Regions from separate parts of the Homo sapiens genome. Here region 2 is linked to region 1. Evidence: fine-mapped expression QTL. A gene starts in region 1. The other region holds a variant in brackets. All regions are shown on one strand. Distances are between the middles of the regions. Region 1 holds the start of RPGRIP1 (RPGR interacting protein 1). Region 2 overlaps RPGRIP1 (RPGR interacting protein 1).

Region 1 (4,527 bases):
GAGGCAGGAGAATGGCGTGAACCTGGGAGGCGGAGCTTGCTGTGAGCCGAGATCACGCCACTGCACTCCAGCCTGGGAGACAGAGCGAGACTCTGTCTCAAAAAAAAAAAAAAAAAAAAAATGGAATGTAGATTCTAAAAGGGTTTATCAATTGTTTTGAACTCAACAGGATGAAAGACTGAAGAAACTTCCACCCGGCGTGGTGGCTCACGCCTGTAATCCCAGCACTATGGGAGGCTGAGGCGGGCTGATCATGAGGTCAGGAGATCGAGACCATCCTGGTCAACATAGTGAAACCCCGTCTCTACTAAAATACAAAAAAATTAGCCAGGCATGGTGGTGCGTGCCTGTAGTCCCAGGTACTCAGGAGGCTGAGGCAGGGGAATTGCTTGAACCTGGGAGGCAGAGATTGCAGTGAGGTGAGATCACGCCACTGCACTCCAGCCGGGTGACAGAGCAAGACTCCGTCTTAAAAAAAAAAAAATTTCCTTGCAGTGATATTCAGAATTGCAGTGCACTTGGACAAGTATAGGTTAGTGAGGGTGAAGAACCCTTTACTAGTGATAGATGGATAGACGTATAAAGCCAGCTTGATGACATCAGCAATTAAAATTTTCTTTTCCTCTTTTTTCGAGACAGAGTATCACATTGTTGCCTGGGCTGGAGTGCAATGTTGCAATCTCAGTTTACTGCAACCTCCGCTTCCCGGGTTCAAGCGATTCTCCTGTCTCAGCCTCCAGAGTAGCTGGGATTACAGGCACCTGCCACCATGCCCAGCTAATTTTTTGTATTTTTTAGTAGAGACAAGATTTCACAATTTTGGCCAGGCTGGTCTCGAACTCCGGACCTTGGGATCCGCCAGCCTCGGTCTCCCAACGTGCTGGGATTACAGGCATGAGCCACCCTGCCCAGACTTCTTTTTTTTCTTTTTTACACTCTGTATCACTGGGCAAGCATTTAAAATTTTGTAGCCAGTTCCCCTTACTCTGATTATTATTATTATTATTATTATTATTATTATTTATTTTTTTTTTTTTTGAGACAAGGTCTCACTCTGTTGCCCAGGCTGGAGTACAGCGGTATGCTCTCGCCTCACTGCAACCTCTGCCTCCAGGGTTCAAGCAATTCTCATGTCTCAGCCCCCCAGGCAGCTGCAATTACAGGCGCAAGCCGCCACGCCCAGCTAATTTTTCTATTCTTAGTAGAGACAGGGTTTTGCCATGTTGGCCAGACTGGTCTTGAACTCCTGATCTCAAGTGATCCACCCGCCTCAGCCTCCCAAAATGCTGAGATTACAGGTGTGAGCCAACACGCCTGGGCCAAGAGTAGATTTTTAAGTGTTCTCATCAAACACAAAAAATTGATGAGCATATGAGGTAATACATATTTTAATTAGCCCAAGATTGGGCAGGTGTGGTGGCTCACGCCCGTAATCCCAGCACTTTGGGAGGCCAAGGCGGGCAGATCACAAGATCAAGAGATCAAGACCATCCTGGCCGTGGCCAACATGGTAAAACCCTGTCTCTACTAAAAATGCAAAAATTAGCTGGGCATGGTGGTGCGCACCTGTAGTCCCAGCTACTCGGGAGGTTGAGGCAGGAGAATTGTTTGAACCCAGGAGGCAGAGGTTGCAGTGAGCCGAGATTGAGCCACTGCACTCCAGCCTCACGAGAGAGAGAGATTCTGTCTCAAAAAAAAAAAAAAGAAAAGCCCAAGGTAGCCATTTTCCACTCTCTCTATATATATATTTCAAAGCAACAAATTTTACACAATAAATATATACAATTTCAAATTGTCAATTAAAAATTAATTAATTTGAAAAGGAGTTTTATTCATTCTGCAGATAGTGGATACATTTCTGAGCAAAAGAGCAATATAATTAGAGCTATGGAAGAGCATTAGGAAGATTCATCTACTATTAGTGATTTGGAAATTGGGGAGAGAACAGTGTTAAGAGGATATTGCTATAGTTCAGGCAAGAAGTCTTGAACTAGGGAAGGAGGGGGGTGGGGGATGGAAGAATAGGATGGATCATGAAGACACTGAGGAAGGAGAATCAAAAGATGTGACAACTGGTTGGACGTGAGATAGAGTTAAGAGGGTGACAGGATTAAAGATGACTTGGTAATGTTGTGCTGGATGCCTGGGAGACTGGTGGTACAATAGAAAATGAATAAACCAGGCCAGGCGCGGTGGCTCATGCCAGTAATCCCAGCACTTTGGGAGGCCGAGGCGGGTGAATCACCTGAGGTCAGGAGTTCAAGACCAGCCTGGCAAACATGGTGAAACCCCGTCTCTACTAAAAACACAAAAATTAGCCGGGCAATGGTGGCGCATGCCTGTAGTCCCCAGCTACTTGGGAGGCTGAGGCAGGAGAATCGCTTGAACCTGGGAGGCAGAGGTTGCAGTGAGCAGAGATAGTGCCGGTGCACTCCAGCCTGGGCGACAGAGTAAGACTCTGTCTCAAAAAAAAAAAAAAAAAAAAGAATAAACTTATTTCATTCTTCTCAAAAACACCCCTAGGGAAGACATAGGAAACTATAAATATGCATCAGATAGAAACTTACAGTTCTTGCTTGCTCCAGATAGCTGTCGCTAATTCTTTTCTCTCAATGTTCTGGTGTCCTTTAGTACTCTAGGTTCCAATAAGCTTGTCCTTCTGGCTTGTTAAAAGAGGAGCTAATCCAGTTCTGTTTAGCTTTTAAGATGTTAACTCTTTGTAGATCAGAGTGTGTGAAGGCTGTGCTTTTTCTCTATGCATGTTTGACTTGGAGAAAGAGCAGCTTAAAGGGTCCTTAACAGATCCACTTCTCAACTAAAACTAAAGCTGAGAACACATTTGCGGGATTTGAGATTAAAAGAAATTTGTTGGTATTCAGAGGATGATCTTTAAATCTTTTATTTATTTATTTATTTATTTTGAGACAGAGTTTCACTCTTGTTGCCCAGGCTGGAGTGCAATGGCGCGATCTCGGCTCACCGCAACCTCTGCCTCCCAGGTTCAAGCAATTCTCCTGCCTCAGCCTCCCGAGTAGCTGGGATTACAGGCATGCACCACCACAGCCAGCTCACTTTGTATTTTTAGTAGAGATGGAGTTTCTCAATGTTGAGGCTGGTCTCGAACTCCTGACCTCAGGTGATCTGCCCGCCTTGGCCTCCCAAAGTGCTGGGATTACAGGCTTGAGCCACCGCGCCCGGCCGATATTCTTTAAATCTTTATCTGAAGGGCAACAACAGTGGGAGTTGTTCTGAAGCCCTGAGATCCCTTTGAAGAGAACAAACACTGCACCGTTGGTGGGATCAACATGCCTATTCAGTCCACATGTGCCAGTGCTTTCGAGTAAGAGAATGTATATCTTCCATTTCACCGTGACCACCGTTTTGAAACCAAACTTTGGGATGTAATTATGAAGCAATAGGATTTGATATAAGAAAATTAAATGTTCTTAAAAATTCTGCAAGGCTGGTCACTGCATTCATATTATATATTAAGTGGAATACGGTCTCAATTGTTACATAAAATCCTCTTTATTTATTTATTTATTTTGAGATGCAGTTTCGCTCTTGTTACCTAGGCAGGAGTGCAATGGTGCGATCTCGGCTCACTGCAACCTCTGCCTCCCGGGTTCAAGCAATTCTCCTGCCTCAGCCTCCTGAGTAGCTGGGATTACAGGCATGCGCCACCACGCCCAGCTAATTTTGTATTTTTACTAGAGACAAGGTTTCTCCATGTTGGTCAGGCTGGTCTCGAACTCCCGACCTCAGGTGATCCACCTACCTTGGCCTCCCAAAGTGCTGGGATTACAGGCCTGAGCCACCACGACTGGCCTAAATCCTCTCTTTAATGCACTGAATGGGTGCATTGAGAAAGCTCCATTCTGGTTATTGGCATGAGGTTCGGGGATTTCCAGGAGGATGAACACATAGTTAATGGGCCCCATGTGACTTCCTCTAAATCCCATGAAATAATAAAATAAAATAAAATAAAATAAAGCTAGGGAGACAATTAGGAAGTAGAGAAAGTATCCAGGACACATACATTTCCCAGTGAAGAGAGGAAAATTCAATATAATATTTTACCAGGTTTAAATGACAGATTTATAAAATTTAAAAGCTGGGCTTTTATGCACTTAAGGTTGCTTCTTGCCCAAGCTATTTCTTGATAAATCTGGGATTTTCTGTCCTTTTTTAAGATGCTCTAGCCAGAGACAGTGCAGGACAAAATTAATTTTGAAGTAAGCCAAGTTTGTGTTTGATAATCGTGTTCTCTTTTCTGAACCTCTGACTTTTGTTAATTTTTTTTTTTTTTTTTTTTTGAGACGGAGTTTTGCTCTTGTTGCCCAGGCTGGTGTGCAATGGCACAATCTTGGCTCACTGCAACCTCTGCCTCCCGGGTTCAAGAGATTCTCCTGCCTCAGTCTCCCTAGTGGCTGGGATTACAGGCACCCGCCACCACACCCAGCTAATTTTTTGTATTTTTAGTAGAGATGAGGTTTCACTATGTTGGCCTGGCTGGTCTTGACCTCC
Region 2 (4,000 bases), 40 kb before region 1:
GACAAGTACACAGAGTGGAACACAGGCGTTAGCTGTGGAAGGGTCCCGAAGTGAGGAGAACAAAGGACTAAGACTTGCCAGATGTTGGAAGGTCATGGCTTCTTAAAATACCTTCCAGCTGCTTGATACGGTTATTCTTGAGGTCTAGTAGTCGAGTCAACCTCTCCAGCTTTTCTTTGTGATCTCTATTATCATTGTCAGCTTTTGTCATCATTGCCTCCAGTTCCTCCTGAAACAAAATAATGTCTGAACTTTTCTATCTCAGTGGCCTAAAACCAAAGAGCATAAAAAATGTGGCACTGGCTAGGTCAAGAAGACTGCTATCCTTAGCTGGGCAGGTTCACCCACTAGAAGAAGGTTTGATTTCCTTGCAGACCCCTCCAAGACTAGTTGTGCTATCATTGAGGTAGGGTGGTTCCTAGGACTGGCAAAATTTGAACCCAGAAGCCTTACGCTTGCCATTGGCATGGGCTGGCCCCATCACTGGCTCCTAGTGCCAAGGTGCCGTGGGCATGTGTGAGTCCTCAAGTTCTTCAAAGGACAGCCATTGTGTGTTTGCTCAGGATAGCACATCACCTGGTATCAGCCCTGGAAACTTAGGTCTTGCTTCATTCCCAGTCCTGTGAGTGGTTCCCACGTTCCTGTTATCCATCCCCTTCCTGTACCATCTTTCCTTGCACCTGATAACACACGTTGATTTTGCGCTGCAGAATAAGCATGTCCCTGGTCTTTTCTAGTTCCAATGTGGTCTCTGCGTGTGATACTTGCAACTCATTTAGCACCTGGGACAGTTTCTTTTCTTCTTGGTTTTTGGGTTCACTTGGCTGTAGAGGGAAACGCATTGGTAAAAGGGAGTATAAATATGACAGGTAAAGTAATAATGATTCTCCATAAAACAGTTGTTGGTAGTAGTAAAATGCCAGCAGCAGAAACTACTCCAAAATGTAAACAAGGACCTGTATGACTTCACAAGTGCTCTTTCCCCTAGTTCTCATGTTCAGTAGCAGCAGTGAAGGGAGATGATACAGCCACTAATGGCTGTTTGCTCTTCCACAGATCTTTTCAAGTCCTCATCTGAAAAAGATTCTAAATTTTATGAGCTGCAAAGAGTGGAAGAAATGGGTGGAGCTCATGAAGTTCTCTACGCTCTGCCTTCTCACAGTTTTCCAAAAAGTGTCCTCAAGCAGGGCACAGTGGCACGTGCCTGTAATCCCAGCACTTTGGGAGGCTGAGTTGGGCGGATCACCAGAGGTCAGGAGTTCGAGACCAGCCTGGCCAAAATGGCGAAACCCTGTCTCTACTAAAAATACAAAAAATTAGCCGGCTGTGGTGGCAAGCACCTGTAATCCCAGCTACTCGGGAGGCTGAGGAAGGAGAATTGCTTAAACCTGGGAGGCAAAGACTGTAGTGAGCCGAGATCGCGCCATTGCACTCCAGCCTGGGAAACAAGAGCAAAACTCCATCTCAAAAAAAAAAAAAAAAAAAAAGAGTGGGCCGGGCGCGGTGGCTTACGCCTGTAATCCCAGCACTTTGGGAGGCCGAGGTGGGCGGATCACGAGGTCAGGAGATCGAGACCATCCTGGCTAACACGGTGAAACCCCGTCTCTACTAAAAATACAAAAAAATTAACCGGGCGAGGTGGCGGGTGCCTGTAGTCCCAGCTACTCGGAAGGCTGAGGCAGGAGAACGGCGTGAACCCCAGGGGGCGGAGCCTGCAGTGAGCCGAGATCGCGCC[A/CA]CTGCACTCCAGCCTGGGCGACAGCGAGACTCTGTCTCAAAAAAAAAAAGAGTGTCCTCAGTCAGGACAAAATATTATTTAGTTAGTTTTCTAATCTCATCATCTTCCCTAGAGATATTTGCCAGAGATCTCTCTGCAGAGTGGACTAGTTTGTTTAAAGAGGCTCTTACCTCGATCTGAGTGTTCTCTTGCAATACAGCTGGGTGAGTGGCTGGTTCAGATTGCCTGTCAGGAGGTTGGGAAATTGTGGCTGCATTTTGGAGGAGCTCTACTTCCTGTTTATGCTTCTGAAGTATGTTGGTGACTTCAAGCTTCAGATCCTCATTTTGGGCTGGGGAAAAATAATCCAGAAATGTGAAATTCTGTAGTTATTTATCACCATGGTCAGAGTTGGATCAAGTGTGAATTTAATCTTCCCACTAAGGTTTAATTAATGTTATAAATTTGAGAAGCAATTCTCTATTATTTCTACAGAGGAGGACTCTAGCTTATTGACTCAGTAAACTGAGGTGATACTACTTGCACTCCGAAAACAAAAGACACCTGCAGAATGGTAGAGTGGAAAGTGGAATAACAATAACAACACAAAACAGAAAGGGAATCACTTGACTAGGGTAATCCAAACTTTTTGACAGCAGCATCGAAACCAGTATCTCACCAACTCCACCCCCACTCCATTCTGACTTCTAGGTTACTAGCTCTCTGTGGCACCCATCTTCACACCCACCCTGGCCTGGATGGAGGATGGGCATTTCTGTGTTCCAATGTGTGTGTGTGTGTTTTTCTCTTTAGACAGTCTTACTCCATCACTCAGGATGGAGTGCAGTGGTGCGATCTTGGCTCCCTGCAACCTATGCCTCCAGGGTTCAACGATTCTTGTGCCTCAGCCTCCTGAGTAGCTGGTATTACAGGCGCACGACACTACGACTGGCTAATTTTCGTGTTTTTAGTAAAGATGGGGTTTCACCATGTTGGCCAGGCTGGTCTGAAACTCCTGGCCTCATGTGATCTGCTGGCCTCGGCCTCCCAATGTGCTGGGATTACAGGCATGAGCCACCACACCAGGCTGTGTGTGTGTTTTTCAGGGAATAAAGGTAATCGGTGTTTAGTGAGCAGATCATTTCCATCATGCATTAGAGAAGGGATTAAATTAGATTGCCCTGAAGGTCCTTACAAGACTTCATTTGTGCTTCAAACATACTAATTGGCATGTGCTCCTAAACATGGTTCTTGCCTCTATTTTTCTTGATTTCACACATTTCTTTTCCTTCCGTTCCCTATTTGAATACACTAAAACTTGATGAGATATAAATTTGATAAAACTAAATATTAAGGTCCAGGCTAGGAAAAAGTAGTAAGATGAAGGTCTTTTTGACAGTATTTAAAAATGTTCCAAATACCTATCTCCTGAGATCCAAGAGTTAAGACGGGGGTGAACTGGCAGTGGTAACCAAGAATAGTAATTTGCTACTCAATTTCAAGAATTGGATGGCAAAAAAAAAAAAAAGTATTCCAGTTACCTCTAAAATGATGAGAAGGATAAAAGACAAAGAAATTCACTTTCAATACTTTCAGCCAGGTGTAGTGGCTTTCACCTGTAATCCCAGCACTTTGGGAGGCTGAGGCGGGTGGATCACTTGAGGTTAGTTTCAGACCAGCCTGGCCAACATAGTGAACCCTCGTCTCTACTAAAATATACAAAAAATTAGTTGGGTGTGGTGGTGGGCACCTGCAATCCCAGCAACTCGGGAGGCTGAGGCAGGAGAATCTCTTGAACCTGGGAGGCAGAGGTTGAAGTGAGCCCAGATCGCATCACTGTACTCCAGCCTGGGTGACAGAGTGAGACTCTCTCAGAAACAAAACCAAACCAAACCAAACAAAAGAAAACTTTCAATAAACTGAACGTTTAAAAAACATAATAAATTAAAAACTGGCAGGTCGGGCACAGTGGCGCACGCCTGTAATCCCAGCACTTTGGGAAGCTGAGGCTGGTGGATCATCTGAGGTCAGGAGTTCACGACCAGCCTAACTAACATGGTAAAACCCCATCTCTACTAAATACAAAAAAAAAAAAATAGCCAGGCGTGGTAGTGCATGCTTGTAATCCGAGCTACTTGGGAGGCTGAGATAGGAGAATCGCTTGTACCTGGGAGGTGAAGGTTGCAGTGAGCTGAAATCGTGCCATTGCACTCGAGCCTGAGCAACAAGAGCGAAACTCCACCTCAAAAACAAACAAACAAACAAACAAACAAAAACTAGCATCTT

Evidence for each region. PIP is the estimated chance that this variant, and not a neighbour inherited with it, causes the effect.
Region 2: its variant is fine-mapped to the expression of RPGRIP1 in lung (TOPMed, PIP above 0.99).

Annotation. Positions count from the first base shown.
Region 1 is chr14:21,278,200-21,282,726 of GRCh38, reverse strand. RPGRIP1 (RPGR interacting protein 1) reads right to left here and starts at 2,644. Exons shown (of 25, transcript NM_020366.4): 1 at 2,568-2,644.
Region 2 is chr14:21,318,083-21,322,082 of GRCh38, reverse strand. RPGRIP1 (RPGR interacting protein 1) reads right to left here. Exons shown (of 25, transcript NM_020366.4): 12 at 1,906-2,066; 13 at 681-824; 14 at 79-229. Among named protein-coding and RNA genes, the nearest start is that of RPGRIP1, 40 kb to the right of the region's middle. The variant A/CA (reference allele first, on the strand shown) is at 1,736.